Homo sapiens: one gene and its partners. The protein of the gene in region 1 interacts with the protein of each later gene in a biochemical or structural test. Each region holds a gene or a part of one and is shown in the gene's direction. Other genes may lie near its edges.

The links.
Region 2: the proteins of ERBB2 (region 1) and PLCG1 form a complex in vitro, tested with the Homo sapiens proteins (2 studies listed by BioGRID and IntAct, with this or other methods).
Region 3: the proteins of ERBB2 (region 1) and BLNK form a complex in vitro, tested with the Homo sapiens proteins (2 studies listed by BioGRID and IntAct, with this or other methods).

The regions. Positions count from the first base shown.
Region 1 is NC_000017.11:39,723,163-39,730,006, forward strand, and holds the end of ERBB2 (receptor tyrosine-protein kinase erbB-2 isoform a precursor), read left to right. Parts: intron 1-156; coding exon 157-295; intron 296-375; coding exon 376-498; intron 499-749; coding exon 750-848; intron 849-1,563; coding exon 1,564-1,749; intron 1,750-1,886; coding exon 1,887-2,042; intron 2,043-2,164; coding exon 2,165-2,240; intron 2,241-2,544; coding exon 2,545-2,691; intron 2,692-3,332; exon of another isoform or gene 3,333-3,399; coding exon 3,400-3,497; intron 3,498-3,652; coding exon 3,653-3,841; intron 3,842-4,132; coding exon 4,133-4,385; intron 4,386-4,526; coding exon 4,527-4,882; 3' UTR 4,883-5,496; downstream 5,497-6,844. Other genes in the region: MIEN1 (migration and invasion enhancer 1), read right to left, coding at 6,436-6,599. UniProt on the Homo sapiens protein: Protein tyrosine kinase that is part of several cell surface receptor complexes, but that apparently needs a coreceptor for ligand binding. Essential component of a neuregulin-receptor complex, although neuregulins do not interact with it alone.
Region 2 is NC_000020.11:41,161,063-41,169,811, forward strand, and holds part of PLCG1 (1-phosphatidylinositol 4,5-bisphosphate phosphodiesterase gamma-1), read left to right. Parts: intron 1-1,389; coding exon 1,390-1,474; intron 1,475-1,579; coding exon 1,580-1,663; intron 1,664-1,895; coding exon 1,896-1,930; intron 1,931-2,140; coding exon 2,141-2,213; intron 2,214-2,315; coding exon 2,316-2,417; intron 2,418-2,652; coding exon 2,653-2,771; intron 2,772-2,858; coding exon 2,859-2,944; intron 2,945-3,018; coding exon 3,019-3,139; intron 3,140-3,870; coding exon 3,871-4,039; intron 4,040-4,182; coding exon 4,183-4,305; intron 4,306-4,387; coding exon 4,388-4,489; intron 4,490-4,576; coding exon 4,577-4,764; intron 4,765-5,131; coding exon 5,132-5,332; intron 5,333-5,413; coding exon 5,414-5,533; intron 5,534-5,616; coding exon 5,617-5,797; intron 5,798-6,789; coding exon 6,790-6,867; intron 6,868-7,704; coding exon 7,705-7,808; intron 7,809-7,960; exon of another isoform or gene 7,961-8,016; coding exon 8,017-8,113; intron 8,114-8,394; coding exon 8,395-8,464; intron 8,465-8,749. UniProt on the Homo sapiens protein: Mediates the production of the second messenger molecules diacylglycerol (DAG) and inositol 1,4,5-trisphosphate (IP3). Plays an important role in the regulation of intracellular signaling cascades.
Region 3 is NC_000010.11:96,187,402-96,192,049, reverse strand, and holds the end of BLNK (B-cell linker protein), read left to right. Parts: coding exon 1-77; 3' UTR 78-2,879; downstream 2,880-4,648. UniProt on the Homo sapiens protein: Functions as a central linker protein, downstream of the B-cell receptor (BCR), bridging the SYK kinase to a multitude of signaling pathways and regulating biological outcomes of B-cell function and development.

The DNA.
Region 1 (6,844 bases):
AAGGCAGGTTTTAGAGTAGGAGAGGGTCCAAGCCTGTGGGTCACCCTTCCGACTTCCCTTTCCGAATGCCAAACACCTTCATGTCCCCCGTGGGCCCCCTTTGTCCCTCCCACCCCAAACTAGCCCTCAATCCCTGACCCTGGCTTCCGCCCCCAGCCCTCTGACGTCCATCATCTCTGCGGTGGTTGGCATTCTGCTGGTCGTGGTCTTGGGGGTGGTCTTTGGGATCCTCATCAAGCGACGGCAGCAGAAGATCCGGAAGTACACGATGCGGAGACTGCTGCAGGAAACGGAGGTGAGGCGGGGTGAAGTCCTCCCAGCCCGCGTGGGGTCTGCACCGGCCCCCGGCACTGACCCACCACCCCCTCACCCCAGCTGGTGGAGCCGCTGACACCTAGCGGAGCGATGCCCAACCAGGCGCAGATGCGGATCCTGAAAGAGACGGAGCTGAGGAAGGTGAAGGTGCTTGGATCTGGCGCTTTTGGCACAGTCTACAAGGTCAGGGCCAGGTCCTGGGGTGGGCGGCCCCAGAGGATGGGGGCGGTGCCTGGAGGGGTGTGGTCGGCAGTTCTGATGGGAGGGGCAAGAGCTGGAGGCAGTGTTTGGGGGAGGGCAGTTACAGCGGAGAAGGGAGCGGGGCCAAGCCCTAGGGTGGTGAAGGATGTTTGGAGGACAAGTAATGATCTCCTGGAAGGCAGGTAGGATCCAGCCCACGCTCTTCTCACTCATATCCTCCTCTTTCTGCCCAGGGCATCTGGATCCCTGATGGGGAGAATGTGAAAATTCCAGTGGCCATCAAAGTGTTGAGGGAAAACACATCCCCCAAAGCCAACAAAGAAATCTTAGACGTAAGCCCCTCCACCCTCTCCTGCTAGGAGGACAGGAAGGACCCCATGGCTGCAGGTCTGGGCTCTGGTCTCTCTTCATTGGGGTTTGGGGAGATATGACTCCCGCAAACCTAGACTATTTTTTTGGAGACGGAGTCTTGCTCTGTCACCCAGGCTGGAGTGCAGTGGCGTTATCTCGGCTCACTGCAACCTCCACCTCCTGGACTCAAGCGATTTTCATGCCTCAGGCTCCTGAGTAGCTGGGATTACAAGCGCCCGCTAATTTTTTTTTTTTTTTTGAGACAGAGTCTCGCTCTGTCACCCAGGCTAGAGTGAAATGGTGCGGTCTCAGCTCAGCCTCCCAGGTTAAAGCGATTCTTCTCCCTCAGTCTCCTGAGTAGCTGGGATTACAGGCGCGAGCCACCACGCCCGGCTAATTTTTGTATTTTTAGTAGAGATGGGATTTCACCATGTTGGCCAGGTTGGTGTCAAACTCCTGACCTCATGATCCGCCCGCCTCGGCCTCCCAAAGTGCTGGGATTACAGGTGTGAGCCACCGTGCCCGGCCTAATCTTTGTATTTTTAGTAGAGACAGGGTTTCACCATGTTGTCCAGGCTGGTACTTTGAGCCTTCACAGGCTGTGGGCCATGGCTGTGGTTTGTGATGGTTGGGAGGCTGTGTGGTGTTTGGGGGTGTGTGGTCTCCCATACCCTCTCAGCGTACCCTTGTCCCCAGGAAGCATACGTGATGGCTGGTGTGGGCTCCCCATATGTCTCCCGCCTTCTGGGCATCTGCCTGACATCCACGGTGCAGCTGGTGACACAGCTTATGCCCTATGGCTGCCTCTTAGACCATGTCCGGGAAAACCGCGGACGCCTGGGCTCCCAGGACCTGCTGAACTGGTGTATGCAGATTGCCAAGGTATGCACCTGGGCTCTTTGCAGGTCTCTCCGGAGCAAACCCCTATGTCCACAAGGGGCTAGGATGGGGACTCTTGCTGGGCATGTGGCCAGGCCCAGGCCCTCCCAGAAGGTCTACATGGGTGCTTCCCATTCCAGGGGATGAGCTACCTGGAGGATGTGCGGCTCGTACACAGGGACTTGGCCGCTCGGAACGTGCTGGTCAAGAGTCCCAACCATGTCAAAATTACAGACTTCGGGCTGGCTCGGCTGCTGGACATTGACGAGACAGAGTACCATGCAGATGGGGGCAAGGTTAGGTGAAGGACCAAGGAGCAGAGGAGGCTGGGTGGAGTGGTGTCTAGCCCATGGGAGAACTCTGAGTGGCCACCTCCCCACAACACACAGTTGGAGGACTTCCTCTTCTGCCCTCCCAGGTGCCCATCAAGTGGATGGCGCTGGAGTCCATTCTCCGCCGGCGGTTCACCCACCAGAGTGATGTGTGGAGTTATGGTGTGTGATGGGGGGTGTTGGGAGGGGTGGGTGAGGAGCCATGGCTGGAGGGAGGATGAGAGCTGGGATGGGGAGAATTACGGGGCCACCTCAGCATGTGAAGGGAGGGAAGGGGCTGCCTGTGCCCCACCTTGCAGGGTCTGTGCACTTCCCAGGATTAGGGAAAGACCGGGTAGGGTCTGTCTCCTGGCATCACATCTCCCCCTGCTACCTGCCATGATGCTAGACTCCTGAGCAGAACCTCTGGCTCAGTACACTAAAGCTCCCTCTGGCCCTCCCACTCCTGACCCTGTCTCTGCCTTAGGTGTGACTGTGTGGGAGCTGATGACTTTTGGGGCCAAACCTTACGATGGGATCCCAGCCCGGGAGATCCCTGACCTGCTGGAAAAGGGGGAGCGGCTGCCCCAGCCCCCCATCTGCACCATTGATGTCTACATGATCATGGTCAAATGTGCGTGGCTGAGCTGTGCTGGCTGCCTGGAGGAGGGTGGGAGGTCCTGGGTGGAGGAGCCCACAAGGGGCATGAAAGGGGACCAGGATGTATGTAGACCCAGGAGCCCTAGTATGTTAGGAGCCTCAAAACCTTCTTGTATCCCTTTTACAGTCAAAGTCCAAAGCCACTCTTGAGGAACACTCTTGTACAAAATTAAGCTGGGCACAGTGGCTCATGCCTGTAATCCCAGTACTTTTGGAGGCTGAGGTGGGAGGATCCCTTGAAGCCAGGAGTTCAAGACCAGCCTGGGCAACATAGTGAGATCCTATCTCTACAAAAAATAAAAAAATTATCTGGGTGTGGTGGTGTGTGCCAGTAGTCCCAGCTACTCAGGAGAGGCTGAGGCAGGAAGATCACTTGAGCCTAGTTTAAGGTTGCAGTAAGCTATGATTGCACCACTGAAATCCAGCCTGGGTGACAGAGCGAAACCTCATCTCAAAAAAATAAAAAAGCAAACAAAAAGAAAAAAAAAATTAAAAGGGAAACTAGAAGAGATGCCAAAGGTTCTGGCTGAAGACCCCAGAGTCTGGTGCTACTTCTCTACCACCTGAGGGCTTTGGGCTGTCCCTTGGGACTGTCTAGACCAGACTGGAGGGGGAGTGGGAGGGGAGAGGCAGCAAGCACACAGGGCCTGGGACTAGCATGCTGACCTCCCTCCTGCCCCAGGTTGGATGATTGACTCTGAATGTCGGCCAAGATTCCGGGAGTTGGTGTCTGAATTCTCCCGCATGGCCAGGGACCCCCAGCGCTTTGTGGTCATCCAGGTACTGGGCCTCTGTGCCCCATCCCTGCCTGTGGCTAAGAGCACCCTCCTGCAGAGGGTGGGAAGGAGAGATGAGTCCAGTATGCCAGGCCCCTCACGGAAGGCTGCATGCTGGGCTGGGGAGGGGCCACCATCCTGCCTCTCCTTCCTCCACAGAATGAGGACTTGGGCCCAGCCAGTCCCTTGGACAGCACCTTCTACCGCTCACTGCTGGAGGACGATGACATGGGGGACCTGGTGGATGCTGAGGAGTATCTGGTACCCCAGCAGGGCTTCTTCTGTCCAGACCCTGCCCCGGGCGCTGGGGGCATGGTCCACCACAGGCACCGCAGCTCATCTACCAGGGTCAGTGCCCTCGGTCACACTGTGTGGCTGTCTGCTTACCTCCCCCAACCCCGGTGGACTAGGGTCCCTTTCTCTGATGTTCCCTCAACTGTCACCTCTCAAGGAAACCCCATTATCCCTACAAAAAATTCTTACTGCCTTCCAACCCCTGTGACCCCATTCTCTCCACGGTGACTGTGTCATACCCCAAAGGTGACCTCTGTTTTTCTCCTGTGACCCTGTCACCTTCCATGGAGTCCCCATCCCAGATCCGTGAGTGACCCCCATCATGACTTTCTTTCTTGTCCCCAGAGTGGCGGTGGGGACCTGACACTAGGGCTGGAGCCCTCTGAAGAGGAGGCCCCCAGGTCTCCACTGGCACCCTCCGAAGGGGCTGGCTCCGATGTATTTGATGGTGACCTGGGAATGGGGGCAGCCAAGGGGCTGCAAAGCCTCCCCACACATGACCCCAGCCCTCTACAGCGGTACAGTGAGGACCCCACAGTACCCCTGCCCTCTGAGACTGATGGCTACGTTGCCCCCCTGACCTGCAGCCCCCAGCCTGGTATGGAGTCCAGTCTAAGCAGAGAGACTGATGGGCAGGGGAGGTGGGACCTTCAGCCCAGGGTCCACTGTGGGGGCAGAGGGAGTGGCAGAGACACCGGGGTTCCTTCCCCTAATGGGTCACCTTCTCTTGACCTTTCAGAATATGTGAACCAGCCAGATGTTCGGCCCCAGCCCCCTTCGCCCCGAGAGGGCCCTCTGCCTGCTGCCCGACCTGCTGGTGCCACTCTGGAAAGGCCCAAGACTCTCTCCCCAGGGAAGAATGGGGTCGTCAAAGACGTTTTTGCCTTTGGGGGTGCCGTGGAGAACCCCGAGTACTTGACACCCCAGGGAGGAGCTGCCCCTCAGCCCCACCCTCCTCCTGCCTTCAGCCCAGCCTTCGACAACCTCTATTACTGGGACCAGGACCCACCAGAGCGGGGGGCTCCACCCAGCACCTTCAAAGGGACACCTACGGCAGAGAACCCAGAGTACCTGGGTCTGGACGTGCCAGTGTGAACCAGAAGGCCAAGTCCGCAGAAGCCCTGATGTGTCCTCAGGGAGCAGGGAAGGCCTGACTTCTGCTGGCATCAAGAGGTGGGAGGGCCCTCCGACCACTTCCAGGGGAACCTGCCATGCCAGGAACCTGTCCTAAGGAACCTTCCTTCCTGCTTGAGTTCCCAGATGGCTGGAAGGGGTCCAGCCTCGTTGGAAGAGGAACAGCACTGGGGAGTCTTTGTGGATTCTGAGGCCCTGCCCAATGAGACTCTAGGGTCCAGTGGATGCCACAGCCCAGCTTGGCCCTTTCCTTCCAGATCCTGGGTACTGAAAGCCTTAGGGAAGCTGGCCTGAGAGGGGAAGCGGCCCTAAGGGAGTGTCTAAGAACAAAAGCGACCCATTCAGAGACTGTCCCTGAAACCTAGTACTGCCCCCCATGAGGAAGGAACAGCAATGGTGTCAGTATCCAGGCTTTGTACAGAGTGCTTTTCTGTTTAGTTTTTACTTTTTTTGTTTTGTTTTTTTAAAGATGAAATAAAGACCCAGGGGGAGAATGGGTGTTGTATGGGGAGGCAAGTGTGGGGGGTCCTTCTCCACACCCACTTTGTCCATTTGCAAATATATTTTGGAAAACAGCTAGGCACCGGCCTATGTCTGGGGGTGGCTCTGTGCCATCCCTTCCTGCTCACCTTACACTCAATTCCTCTTTTCCTGGAGGGAGTGGCTGGGAATCTTCAGAAAGCTTGGATGAGGAGCCAGACATCCAGTTCTCCAGCTTCAGGGTTGGGGGAGATCGGGAAGCTGGATTCAGATCTGAGAGCCCTTTGACGACCAGATCATTCTTATTTAGAACGAACTAATTCCTAAGGCCACTCACCAGAATGGGGTTATTTCCTCCTTGTGAGTGAGGAGAGTGGTGGGTAGGGTGGGGGAAAGACGAGGCAGGGTCTACTGTGGGACTCATTTTCCTTGCCTTGGCTATGCCAGAGGAGCTCACTGACCTAAGGAGTAGCTGTCCAGAAAGCCCACCCAGCCAGCACAGCCACCCTGGCGGTGCAAAGGCTGGGCTGACCGGACTTCTGTGCCCCCCACATTCCCAGACTGGACGTATAAAAACACACACTAGTTAGCATTAGTGTTTGTAGCGCCACTTTACTGCCAATAGCTGACATTGCCCTGGGTTAGGGGAGAATAAATAAAATCTGTGGCATCAGACAGGTATTACCGAGGCGAAGAGTGGACTGGGCTTTCGTGGGCACTTACCCTGGGAAGGGGGTATGAGGTGGCTGGAGAAGTGTTCATGGAGAGTGTCTCTCTCCTGCCCCCAAGGCCACGGAATCTTCTATTCCTTCTTTGTACCCAAAGGGCAAAGTGGAGGCCAGGGTCTCTTTGCTAAGGAGCTAAGTAGGGGAAAGAGGCAGGGGGAGCTCCCAGCAGGACCAAAGGGAGACCAAGGTTTGGACCCCAGAACAGAGCAGGAACCCAGAGTCCTGTGCAGTCACAGGATGACGCAGGGAGGACGGCTGTTGGTGATCTTTTCTAGGGTTTCTCCATTACTGGCTCTTCGGATGGCCTCAATGAGCTAGAGGAGTGGAATGACAGGATGATGCACTGTTGGGGTAGGGTGACCAAGAGGTCCTCCCAACGCTGTAAATACTCACATCTTTCTCATAGGGAAAGCCCCCATTCTCCAGCTTGGAGAACACCAGCTGTCCATTTATCTCTATCTCAAAGGCACCTGGTAAGAAATCAACAGATAAATGGTACACTGAGAACATAGGCAGAAGTCAGGAGTTCCTCCAAAGGGGTCCCCCGCCTTCAAGTCCCCCATCAATCCCACTGGAGACCCATTTGTAGCTCCTTAAGCAATTCCCCAACCCTGGGTCAACTCCAGGGAACCTGAGGGAGGCCTCGCCTGTGTGCCCCTCGCAACACTCAATAAAGGACTCCCTCCCCTCCAACCCTACACGATTGCAGTCTAAT
Region 2 (8,749 bases), on another chromosome or scaffold:
ACACTGAAAGCCACAGGGCTGGGTGAGATCACCTAGGGGGCAAGCAGACCAAGAAAAGGGCAGGGTCCAGTGGCTGATCCCAGACCACCCCCATATTAGAGATTGGAGGGGTCAGGGACAACTAGTGCGGTAAGAGGAGAACCCCCAGAGTGTTGAGTTCTGGCAGCCCAAGGAAGAAGACAGTGGTGAAATCTGACCGTTGACCCTTGGATTTAACATGGTGAGAAGAGCGGTGTCACCCTAGCGGTGAGGGGCTCAAGGGAATGAGAGGGAGCAAGATGACTCTTGCAAGGAGTTTTGCTATGGAGGGGAGCAAAGAAGAGGGCAGTAGCTGGAGAGCTAAGCAGGGGCAAGACAGGTGTTTTTGGTGGAAGAAGTAACAAGCTGTTCGTATGCTGATGGGAAAGAGACCACAGAGGGCAAGATCGGTGATGCAGGCAGTTGCAACCAGAAGGCCTCTGTTTCCTCACTGGAAAACAAGGACCCTGATAGCACCTACCTCCTGGGTGACTGAGGATCAGAGGAGGGGGCGCCTATATAGAGCCAGCCCTCCCTCCGCAGTGCTTGATCCACTCAGTGTGGCGCTCAGCCCCCTCGGGGAATTTTGGTGCCTCCTCCCAGGCTCTTGGGGCCCAGAGGAGGTGGTCCCACCCTCCCCTCCCCTCCTTGACACCACCTTCCAGGAGAGAAAGCCCCCCCCTTCCCCCTTCTTGTCCATCCTGTTGCCAGGTCCAGCAGTGTCCCCAGCCTCACATCCTGGGCAGGACACCCCTGGAGAGCAGGGGCGCTTGTTCTCTCAGTTTCTTTCCTGGAGCCAGGCCCTGTCTAGCCCCAGGAGGTGCCCAGTTGCCAGTCATTGTATTTGGTGGAGCATGCACCTCCTCCTTCCTCCCTCTCATGGGTTAGTGGGTTCTGAGGACCAAACTCCCAGCATCCCAGTGGGCAGCAGGTAGGGACCTGCTGCCATGCTGCCCCCAACAGGGAAGTTGTGAGTGAGCCCTGCCTTCTGTCTTGGATAGGCTGACTGCCACCTTGGCACAGGCCTCAGCAGTGCCGGTAGGAGGGGAGGCCTGGAGTGTGGTTTTTCTTCCTCCCATGCCTGACCCACTTTACTGAATCTGTTCACATCTTCCTTGCCAGAATTACAGGTTTTTTTTGTTTGTTTTGTTTTTGTTTTTTTTTTTTTTTTTTTTGCTCAGATGAGGAACTGAGGTCCAAAGAAAGGAAGGGACTAACCTCACCCCATGGGTTCTGATCCAGTCTTGCCCTCAGGCCTCCAGGTTCCCAGAATAGTGTTGTTTACCTGTCCAGCCCCAGGTGGGCTCGACCCACAGGTCAGAGGTCATGAGAAGCTGGATGAGACCACTGGGGATGTCCCTGTTTTCTCAGTATATCAGCCAAGGACCTGAAGAACATGCTGTCCCAGGTCAACTACCGGGTCCCCAACATGCGCTTCCTCCGAGAGCGGCTGACGGTAAGTGCCACCCAGGGCTGTCTGTAGATGGGGGCAGGGGAAGCCAAGAGCCCTTCAGCTGGGGGCCTGACTGCCTGACTGGCACTCCTGCTCTATACCATGCAGGACCTGGAGCAGCGCAGCGGGGACATCACCTACGGGCAGTTTGCTCAGCTGTACCGCAGCCTCATGTACAGCGCCCAGAAGACGGTGCATGAGCCACCTGCCCTCCCTCAACCCCTGCCCCTGCTCTTCCACCCCACACCCCAGCTCTGCCTGCCTCAGCCCTGCTGCCCTGCTTAGGGGCTTTTGGGTGCCATTTCTCCAGTTCTTCTCCTCTTGAGGCCTGCCCCCATCTGCTGCTCTAGCCTGCCTTCTTACTAGCCCATTTCCCACATGGCCTCCCAGGGGTCTTGCCCTGACCAGGTTCTGTTTCCTGCAGATGGACCTCCCCTTCTTGGAAGCCAGTACTCTGAGGTTTGGTTTGGAGTGGGGAGGTGGGGTTTTCCCTGGGCCCCCTTCATCTCTCCACTGGGCGATTCTTGATCCAGGTGGGAGGCAGTGGGAGTAGGGAACCATGCTGGACCATTCTGGGAAGCTGTGCTGGCTGGGAGTTGGGTTCTGCCTTCCGTGGGGCACCTTGTTGTCTGTTGACCATACTAGCTAGCTTACCTTCTCTCCCTGCAGGGCTGGGGAGCGGCCGGAGCTTTGCCGAGTGTCCCTTCCTGAGTTCCAGCAGTTCCTTCTTGACTACCAGGGGGTATGGCTGGGCTGACATTGGCCCAGGCTGGTAGGTTGTGGGGGGCTGGGCTCATCCCTGACTGGAGGCTTCTCTCATCCCCTGCCCTCCCTACCCCATCAGGAGCTGTGGGCTGTTGATCGCCTCCAGGTGCAGGAGTTCATGCTCAGCTTCCTCCGAGACCCCTTACGAGAGATCGAGGAGCCATACTTCTTCCTGGATGAGGTGAGCCCGATGTTTCACCCATTTTTTGTCAAGAGAATGAGTAGGGGTGACCAGGACCCCACCCGGGCTCCAGGAGCTAGACGCTCCTTAGGGATGCCACCTTGTTTCTACCTACTGTGCACCTTGCCCACCCCCAGTTGGGACAGAGCACTCTCTCTCCTACCCCCAACCTACCATCTTGGGTTGGACAGGGCAGGGACTCACTGTCTCTTCCCTTCCACATGTTTCTGGACAGTTTGTCACCTTCCTGTTCTCCAAAGAGAACAGTGTGTGGAACTCGCAGCTGGATGCAGTATGCCCGGACACCATGAACAACCCTCTTTCCCACTACTGGATCTCCTCCTCGCACAACACGTGAGTGTGGCTCCTTCAGGCCCACCCAGCTTCTTCCCCAGGAGGGCCCATCTGACCATACCTACCTGCCTCTCCTTGCCTATCCAGGTACCTGACCGGGGACCAGTTCTCCAGTGAGTCCTCCTTGGAAGCCTATGCTCGCTGCCTGCGGATGGGCTGTCGCTGCATTGAGTGTGCGTGGGGTCCAGGGCTGGGGGAGGGAAGATGGGAGGCCTGCCCGCTTGACCATGGTGATGTTGCTCCCCAGTGGACTGCTGGGACGGCCCGGATGGGATGCCAGTTATTTACCATGGGCACACCCTTACCACCAAGATCAAGTTCTCAGATGTCCTGCACACCATCAAGGAGCATGCCTTTGTGGCCTCAGAGTGAGTCGGAGGCTGGATGACCCAGGGGTTAACTTGGCTCCAGGTCTCTCGTTCTAGAGGGACAGAGGGCAGAAAGACTCCTCAAATGCCCTGTCCCCTCTCCCTCAGCCTTTCATCTTTGTCCTTCCTCTTGGCCTCTCCTCGTCACCTGCTCCCTGCTTGAGCTGTTGCTTCCCAAGTTACACTTTCTGTTTCCTACGTGTTGGGCCCACTCTCTTCTTCATGGGTCCTTTAGACTGTAGAACACATGCTCTTCTCATCTTCAGAAAACATGCCCTGGTTTCTTTAGGCCAGTGTCCTGCCAACTCCTTTGCCCTCACAGCCCAGAAGATTGTCTCTGTTCCCTGTGTCCCATTCCTTCAATTCTGTTTACTGCTTAAACTGTGGTCACTGGTCTCCCTTAGCTCACCAGGGCTCTAACAGCTAACTTTGGAGGCTTCTCCTCTCTCCTGGCCTCTTTGGTGTGAAACATTTTTCTTGCACTGCTGAGCAGCCTCCATAATTGGGCCAGCTCGGGACTGCATCAGTTGCCACCCTTTGGTTTCCACTGCTGCCACAGCTGTAGAACCCCTCTCTGCCCCACCAGTGGCTATGGCCTGCCTCTTTTCTGGGATAGTTTTTACAGACAAGAAGCCCCCAGGCCCTTGGCTTCCAACAGCTCACTGTGAGGGGCTACTTAGACCCAGAGAATTGCAGAATCTGTTTCACTGTGCTTGTCCCCCATCCCGCAGGTACCCAGTCATCCTGTCCATTGAGGACCACTGCAGCATTGCCCAGCAGAGAAACATGGCCCAATACTTCAAGAAGGTGCTGGGGGACACACTCCTCACCAAGCCCGTGGAGATCTCTGCCGACGGGCTCCCCTCACCCAACCAGCTTAAGAGGAAGATCCTCATCAAGGTGGGGTGGCGGGCTTATTGCGGAAGCCCCACACTTCTCAGTGCCTTGCCCAGGCCATGGCTTCAGCTGTTGGGCCTAAACCTGGGTGAGGAGGTGGGGTGAGGACTGGGGTCTGCATTGCCCTGTTCTGGTTGCCCCTACAGCACAAGAAGCTGGCTGAGGGCAGTGCCTACGAGGAGGTGCCTACATCCATGATGTACTCTGAGAACGACATCAGCAACTCTATCAAGAATGGCATCCTCTACCTGGAGGACCCTGTGAACCACGTGAGGACTGGGCCAGGCTGGGGGTGGTAGGCCAGTGGGTGTGAGGACCCTGGCTCACAAGTCCCTCTTTGGTCTGTTCCAGGAATGGTATCCCCACTACTTTGTTCTGACCAGCAGCAAGATCTACTACTCTGAGGAGACCAGCAGTGACCAGGGCAACGAGGATGAGGAGGAGCCCAAGGAGGTGAGGAACCAGCTCAGGTCTGGGGGCTGGGCCAGGTCAGGCCTGGGCCAGGGTCACAGTATCTTTGCTGTTGCCTTCCCCTGACAGGTCAGCAGCAGCACAGAGCTGCACTCCAATGAGAAGTGGTTCCATGGGAAGCTAGGGGCAGGGCGTGACGGGCGTCACATCGCTGAGCGCCTGCTTACTGAGTACTGCATCGAGACCGGAGCCCCTGACGGCTCCTTCCTCGTGCGAGAGAGTGAGACCTTCGTGGGCGACTACACGCTCTCTTTCTGGTAACACTTCCCATGCAGATGCGTATGTTCAGTCAGCGTGTGTACACAGACATCACATCACCCAGAGATAATCAGTTAACATTTGAGCCTTTGATCCAGGACAATAATTAGGCTTTACATGGAACATAATTTCACCTACATACACACACACACTCTCTGTCTCACCCCCCCCCCATACCCCTCCCTTTTCGGTTCATTTGAAGCCCACACCTTTGGTTCATGTGACTGCCCACACCTGAGCTCCTCAGGAGATTGGCCTCCCTCCTTGAGGCTCCCTCCTTGAGTTCCACCCTCATTTGGGGTGGAACTTGGTCTTTGGGGCCCTGGCCTGTTTTCCCCAGCCTCCCTCACTCTGTGTCTTCCACAGGCGGAACGGGAAAGTCCAGCACTGCCGTATCCACTCCCGGCAAGATGCTGGGACCCCCAAGTTCTTCTTGACAGACAACCTCGTCTTTGACTCCCTCTATGACCTCATCACGCACTACCAGCAGGTGCCCCTGCGCTGTAATGAGTTTGAGATGCGACTTTCAGAGCCTGTCCCACAGACCAACGCCCACGAGAGCAAAGAGTGAGGGAAGGGCCTGGGGGCGGACAAGGCAGGGCAGGGCCATGGGTGGTGCTGGCCGGGCCTGACTCTGCCTGTTCTCAGGTGGTACCACGCGAGCCTGACCAGAGCACAGGCTGAGCACATGCTAATGCGCGTCCCTCGTGATGGGGCCTTCCTGGTGCGGAAGCGGAATGAACCCAACTCATATGCCATCTCTTTCCGGTGAGGGGTGTGGCACTGGGTTGTGGGGCCTTGCTTGGGTCTGAGCTGCCCTGACCCTGTGTGACTGTTTTGTCCTTGTGAAGGGCTGAGGGCAAGATCAAGCATTGCCGTGTCCAGCAAGAGGGCCAGACAGTGATGCTAGGGAACTCGGAGTTCGACAGCCTTGTTGACCTCATCAGCTACTATGAGAAACACCCGCTATACCGCAAGATGAAGCTGCGCTATCCCATCAACGAGGAGGCACTGGAGAAGATTGGCACAGCTGTGAGGGGGCTGTGGTAGACGGGGCATGGCAGGGGAGGCAGGAGAGACCCAGAATCTTACCAGTCTCTGGATGTGTGTAACAGCAAGACCTGGTGTGTTGTAGAAGTTCGTGGGAGGGCCCCTGACTCCAGCTGGGAGCCACAGTGTGGGTACCAGGAGGGTGTCTGCAGGAGGGGACATCTGAGCAGCATCTTTAAGGATGGGGACAGGCACATAAGCAGAGGGTTCCTCATGAGTCAAGATGTGGAGTGAGGAGGTTCTGGGGCTCACACTGGGAGAGGTGCACACAGTGGAAACTCATCCACCTGGGCTTGGCCTGGACTCTGTCCTAGGGCAGATGAGATGAGGCTACCCAAGAGTGGTTGTGGAGCCTCCGCCTGGTGGATGGTATGGAGGGCAGAGCCACAGGAGGTGAGACCAGTGAGGGAAAAAGTCAGGACCCATGGCAGCACAGCTGGTGATAAGGGCCCTGGACAGAAGGAAGGGGTCTAGGACCAGAAGATCAGTTGAGAGACTGCTGTCGTCAGTAGACAGGGCTGGCTGGGGAGAGAGAGGCCTGTTGTCCACTGGCACCTGGGACTCAAGTGATGGAGAGGAGCGGCAGGAGGAATGTGGGGAGTGGGAAGGCTTTTCCTGACTTTGGGCTCAGCAGTGAACCAACAAGCCACTGAACTAAAGCACTGAATATGGGTAGTCTGTGAAGGGCCCACCTGCACATAGCTCAGAAATACTTGGGAGTTTGGGCATTTAGGACCTGAGAGATTTTAGAATCCTGGGCTGGGCCTTACATGTAAGAATGTGAAGAAAGGAAAGGGAACAGTGAGGCCGGGCCTGAGGCCTCTGAAGCCGTCTCTACTGAGGTCGAAGGATCCCTGTGGATCAGGTGCAAGTTTGCTGCACTGGGGGAAAGGGAAGCTGCTCCAGAAACCAGTAGCTGCTTTCTACCTCTGGGCTCTGGGGCATTAACATATCCCATTGTGTCCTGTTTCCAGGAGCCTGACTACGGGGCCCTGTATGAGGGACGCAACCCTGGCTTCTATGTAGAGGCAAACCCTATGCCAACTTTCAAGGTACAGCTCAGGCCTCTGGGCATAGGAAGCTGGGGAGGGTCCCCAGCTGCTTGGGGCTTCATTTCTGTGTTCTGGGCCATCTGTGGTCTTTGTGGAGAAGTGGTGGTTGTGGTTTTCCGAGGCCCAAGAGGTTGTGAGAGATGTGTGGTTGGTGAGCGACCGCAGGTCTCCCAGGGCCGACCCACTCCCTAGCCCCTACCCCTTAAGTCAGCAGTGACCCTTTAAACTGCTCCTGTGGGTGACCCCTGTTTCCTTCCTGGGCAGCAGCGGGGTAGGAGCTGGGAGGCACACTGGCCACTCATTCCCCGGCCTCATGGAGCCCTGTTACACAGGTTCTTTTTTGTTTTGCCTTTTTCTCTAAAAAGGCCTGGGCCCTATTTCTCACCCCCTCCCCTCCACAGCCAGGGGACCTGGAAGGAAGTTTTTCTTTCCACTTCACAGATGAGTGGTAGGGTCCCATCCAGGCCCCATATGCTTCCAGGTCCCGGGGAGGCACTCAGGGCCACTGCAGACCCTGCCTTCTTGGCCTGCCAGCCCTGACTCCTGGGAGCGGATTCAAGGTTCTCCCTGTGGCCCAGGGTGGGGCTTAAGGTTCCACCTGGGTCCCGAGGTATTTCACTGGCAGAGGCCCTGCCTCTCTGATCATATCTGTCCTGGAGCTTCCCTGCAGGGCAGTAACAAGAACTATAACTAGGGCCTGTTGATGGCAGTGTCATCTCCCACTGGCCTGACCCCAGGCAGGGAAGCCCAAGCACATGTGTGTGTGCACATGAAGCCCCAGGTTGGCAGTGGCAGGGAGAGCCTTTCTGCTCTGACTGGTGCTTCTCACCTCTGCAGTGTGCAGTCAAAGCCCTCTTTGACTACAAGGCCCAGAGGGAGGACGAGCTGACCTTCATCAAGAGCGCCATCATCCAGAATGTGGAGAAGCAAGAGGGAGGCTGGTAAGCCAGTGGTGTGGTAGGCCCAGAGTCCAAGGGCCCCAGTGGAGCTGGGGCCCCAAAGACATGCATTTGTGATGTGCTTGTCTCCTGTGTGCACCAGCAGTGCCTGCCTCACCCTGGCTTAGGCATGGGAACCCCTACCAAAGGATACCCTCCTCATGGGAGTTCGGGGTGGTTGCTGGAGGTCAGCACCCTGTGGCTCCCACAGGTGGCGAGGGGACTACGGAGGGAAGAAGCAGCTGTGGTTCCCATCAAACTACGTGGAAGAGATGGTCAACCCCGTGGCCCTGGAGCCGGAGAGGGAGGTAAGACCAGAACCACCTGAGTAACAGCATTCCCTATTCCCAGATTCTCCTTGGCATGCCCCCATCACACAGTCCCAAGCACGCACGTGCATGCACAGACACCTGTCACATGGGCTGGTCGCACAGCCCATGTGGCCATGCACGTAGTCTCCCATATACCTGTGCTACATTTGGCAGTCACAGGTACACCCACAAGATGTATTTGTCCCATGCACACGGATATCCCCTCACACACATATGCAGTAGCCATGCTGACCATTGGTGGGCTTTGCTTCCCACAGCACTTGGACGAGAACAGCCCCCTAGGGGACTTGCTGCGGGGGGTCTTGGATGTGCCGGCTTGTCAGATTGGTGAGCTCCCATCTGTTTCTCTTGCCCACTGTTCCCTAGGGTGAGATTCTTCTTTGTATCTCTTTCCTGCTCCTAGGGAGGAAGCTGATGGCTGAACCCCAAAGTCTGCCCTCACTCCAAGCTCTCCCCATGCTCTGGACATCCCCTTGACACCCTGGGCTCCCTTTGTCACTGTCAGCTTTGACCCCTGCATGTTTACCTATGCCAGGCACTGGGGAACCCGTCAGAATCAGCAGAACAAAGTTGATGCTGCTGGTTGGCTGACATCCCCAGGCCTAATGGGTT
Region 3 (4,648 bases), on another chromosome or scaffold:
GTCCTTTGGTTCTTATTGACAGTCAGAATAACACAAAAGATTCCACCAGACTGAAGTATGCAGTTAAAGTTTCATAAAGGGGGAAAAAAAAGATCAATACCATTGCTTCAGACACTTTCCCAAAGTTTCTCCTTTTGAGAAAAAGTCCCAAAACTTCATATTTTGGATTATGAATCATCCAGTAATAAAATGGAAGATGGAGTCAGCTATTGAAGTGGTCATCCATTTCTTTTTAAGAAGCTCATGTGGACTTGTTCTATTGCCTGACCTGATGAACTGTTAATATCTGGTGAGGTTGAGTTATCATGCTACTAATATTTTCCAAATAAATATTTTTATTTTTAAAAATAAGTGTAAAGTATATTATCAAAATAAGAAAATAATGCTCTTGCATAAAACAAAGTGGCTGGAAATTTAAACCTCCACAATGATCATTGGTACACTAATGTAGCTGGGCTCTCCACTGCCAATGCTTGACAATTAAGTCTTGGTTAAAATTTTAATTTGTAGAAAATAAGGTATTAAAGGTAATGTATGATATCTGTAAGTATAGGCAAGAAGGATGTAATGGTTCCTTTTTGTGAGCACTCTCAACCATGGGATATATATATATATGGATATGAACTTTCTATAAGTTCTTGTCTAGGATTATGCTGTTAGTTTTGCTTACTAAAGATAATTATACCCTCTTTGATCTACATGTCTATCAAATAGAACCTAAACTTGATATGAGGTTTGTATTAGTCCATTATCACGCTGCTAATAAAGACATACTCAAGACTGGGTGATTTACATAAAAAAAAAAAAAAAAAAAGAGGTTTAATGGACTCACAGTTCCACATGGTTGGGGAGGCCTCACAATCATGGCAGAAGGCAAAGAAGAAGCAAAGGCATGTTTTACATGGTGGCAGGCAAGAGAGCATGTGCAGGGGAACTGCCCTTTATAAAACCATCAGATCTCATGAGACTTACTCACTATCACAACAACATGGGAAAACCTGCCCGCGTGATTCAGTTACCTCCCACCAGGTCCCTCCCATGGCACGTGGGGATTATGGGAGCTACAATTCAAGATGAGATTTGGGTGAGGACACAGCCAAACCATATCAAGTTTCAAAGTGGAATGACAGCAAAGCTAGACTAAAAGCCAGTTCCTAGAGAAATATCCCACAAAACAAGAGCAGAAAAGCAGACATTGGTGAACACCAAGGAATAAAAGAGATACCATCGTGGAGAATCAGGTCCAAGGTCTTAGATCATCCCAGAAATGTATCATACTTTGTCATATATTTCTACTGTGTACTTCAGACAGCAGTGAAGTGATAAAGCAGCTAATTAAGTCTAATAATTAAATGGGGAACACACTTGGCCACTGCATAAGATAGCAATCTATGAAAGTATGTTGAAAGGCCAGAAGGTAATAATTTCAGGGTAACTCATGACTCACTTCTAAAGATAATTGTATATTTAAATGTCATAAACTTTCATAATTGCCACCTATGTTACAGATTGAACTGTGGTCCCCTCAAAAAGATATGTTGAAGTCCTAATCCATAAGGCCACATATCTCAGAATGTGACCTTATTTGGGAATGAGGTCTTTACAGATATAGTCAAGGTAAGATGAGGTCAGTAGGGTGGGCCTTAATACAATGGCTGGTGTCCTTATAAAATTAGGAAATTTGGATGCAGGCACAGAGAGAAGACTATATGAAGAGACACACAGGAACAATACTACTGGCGTGATTCCATCCTGTATGGCTGTTCTCTTGAGCAGTGGTCGTTTATCTCCGTCTGCTTTCTCTCCCACCTAAGTGTGTGCCGCCACCTGATGGAAGATTCGATGGACATGGACGTGAGCCCCCTGAGGCCCAGAACTATCTTTTCAGTTGTGAACTAAAGGCCGACAAAGATGATCACTTTAAGGTGGATAATGATGAAAATGAGCACCAGTTATCCTTAAGAACGGTCAGTTTAGGGGCTGGTGCAAAGGATGAACTGCACATTGTTGAAGCAGAGGCAATGAATTATGAAGGCAGTCCAATTAAATAACACTGGCACCTTTGAAAATGTCTGTACAGCCAACAGTTTCCCTTGGGGTCTTTGAAATAACACCACCAGTGCTTTTATGGTTGAAGTGTGGTTCAGGGCCAGTGCATATTAGTGGACAGCATTTAGTAGCTGTGGAGGAAGATGCAGAGTCAGAAGATGAAGAGGAGGAGGATGTGAAACTCTTAAGGATATCTGGAAAGTGATCTGTCCCTGGAGGTGGTAGCAAGATTCCAGAGAATAAAAGTAAAACTTGCTGCTGATGAAGATGATGATGATGATGATGATGATGATGATGATGATTTTGATGATGAGGAAACTGAAGAAAAAGCACCATTGAAGAAATCTACATACTCCAGCCAAAAATGCACAAAAGTCAAATCAGAATAGAAAACACTCAAACCCATCATCAACACCAAGATTAAAAGGACAAGAATCCTTCAAAAAACAGGAAAAAACTCGTAAAACACCAAAAGGGCCTAGTTCTGTAGAAGACATTAAATCAAAAATGCAAGCAAGTATAGAAAAAGGTGGTTCTCTTCCCAAAGTGGAAGCCAAGTTCATCAATTATGTGAAGAATTGCTTCCGGACAACTGACCAGGAGACTATTCAAGATCCTGGCAGTGGAGGAAGTCTCTTTAGAAAATAGTTTAAACAATTTGTTAACATTTTTCCATCTTATTTCATTTCTCTAACAGTCAATATCTGGCTGTCCTTTCTATAATGCAGAGTGAGAACTTTCCCTACTGTGTTTAATAAATGTTGTCCAGGTTCCATTGCCAAGAATGTGTTGTCCAAAATGCCTGTTTCATTATTAAAGATGGAACTTCACCCTTTGCTTGGTTTTAAATATGTATGGAATGTTATGATAGGACATAGTAGTAGCAGTGGTCAGAACATGGAAATGGTGGGGAGACAAAAATATACATGTGAACTAAAACTTGGCATTTTAATAAAGTAGCATGGTTTCTATTGAAAAAAAAGATTACGACATGAAGATGAGGGACTGGAGTGATGCATCTGTAGGCCTGGGAGCACCAAAGATTGCCTGCAAACCATCAGAAGCTAGGAAGAGGCAAGAACAGACTTCCCTCCGGGTTTTAGAGGGAGCATGGCCCTGGTGGCACCTTGATTTTGGACTTTGAGTGTCCAGTACTTGAAGACAATAAATTTCTGGCTTTTTAAGCCACCCAGTTTATTATGGCGGCCATAGAAACCTAATAAAATTTATATGCATTTTTTACATTCAGGTATATAGGGGTTTGGGAAATTTTGTATGGAAAGGTTTTTTTTCTCCTTTTAGGAAAACCATTGAATCATTTTGAATGTACTAGAAAGGATGACTCACAATTTAAACTGGGAAACTGGGGTAATTTTTTGGTAAAGCAAAGCATCTGTTTGTAGTATGTGGCATCAGCTCTCTAGCTTCAGTTTTCCTCAGTGTTACACGGAATTATTTTCTATTTAAGTAAATCCTCATTAATTCCCACTGCTACCACAGCAACCCTGGCTCTATAACAACCTCTTATGCCTCATTCTTCCTCTCCTCCTCCAAGTGTCCTACTCCAGCTAGGTAATAGCATAGCTGTTAAGATTATACTAATCCTCAGTTGGTTGACATACAGTACTGCGTGGTGGATTTCTTGGAGCAGAGGCTGGGAGAATTTCTGAGAGATAGGCCATTCTCTGCTAAGGGCTCTACTCCTCCCCAAAGCTGGGAGAACTACCCAATCCAACATGCCAGTCTTTTCCCTCATCTTGCAGAAGAGTCCACTGAGGGTGATCCCACCTGCTTCTCTAAAGCCCACCTCTGCAAGTGGTATTCTTGATGAGATTAGAAAAGTCTTTAAGAGGCTGGGCATGGTGGCTTACACCTATAATCACAGTAGTTTGGCAGGCCGAAGCAGGTGGATCACTTGAGGCCAGGAGTTCAAGACCAACCTGGTCAACACAGGGAAACCCCATCTCTACTAAAACTAGAAAAAATTAACTGGGCATGGTGGCACTCGCCTGTAATTTCAGCTACTACTCAGGAGGCTGAGGCATGAGAATCACTTGAACCTGGGAGGCGGAGGTTGTAGTGAGCCAAGATCATGCCACTGCACTCTGGCCTGGGCCACAGAGTGAGACTCTGTCTCAAAATAAACAAATAAGAAATTTCAAACACCTGTCTGTGATCTCAATGTCTCAATGGCTGACAAACAAATGGTTTTGCATAAAGAAATTTTCAGGCAAGCTAGGTGGTGGAATAGGAGACACTAGTCAAGAAGTACATGTGTAGCAGCTGAAGAAGGAAAAAAACCACACCCCAGTTCTTGTCTTCTGTTGAAAAGTAGATTGCAGCTATGGTAGTAGGAAAGATTTTCAAGTTTGTTCAAAAGGACAATAGACATGAAAAAGCTACGCCTGTGTCCAGCACAAGCCTGATTGTGTGTTATCATAAGTTAGCCAGGGCAATGGTTTGGAGACCTTGCACTCTGGGAGCTAAACTACTCTTACTGTAGTAGCTGGGATAGTCTTGCCTAAAAGAAAGTCCCAGAGAACAGAATTCAGCGATGTGAGGCAAAACCAGCACTACCTGAGACATGTTCTTAAAAAAG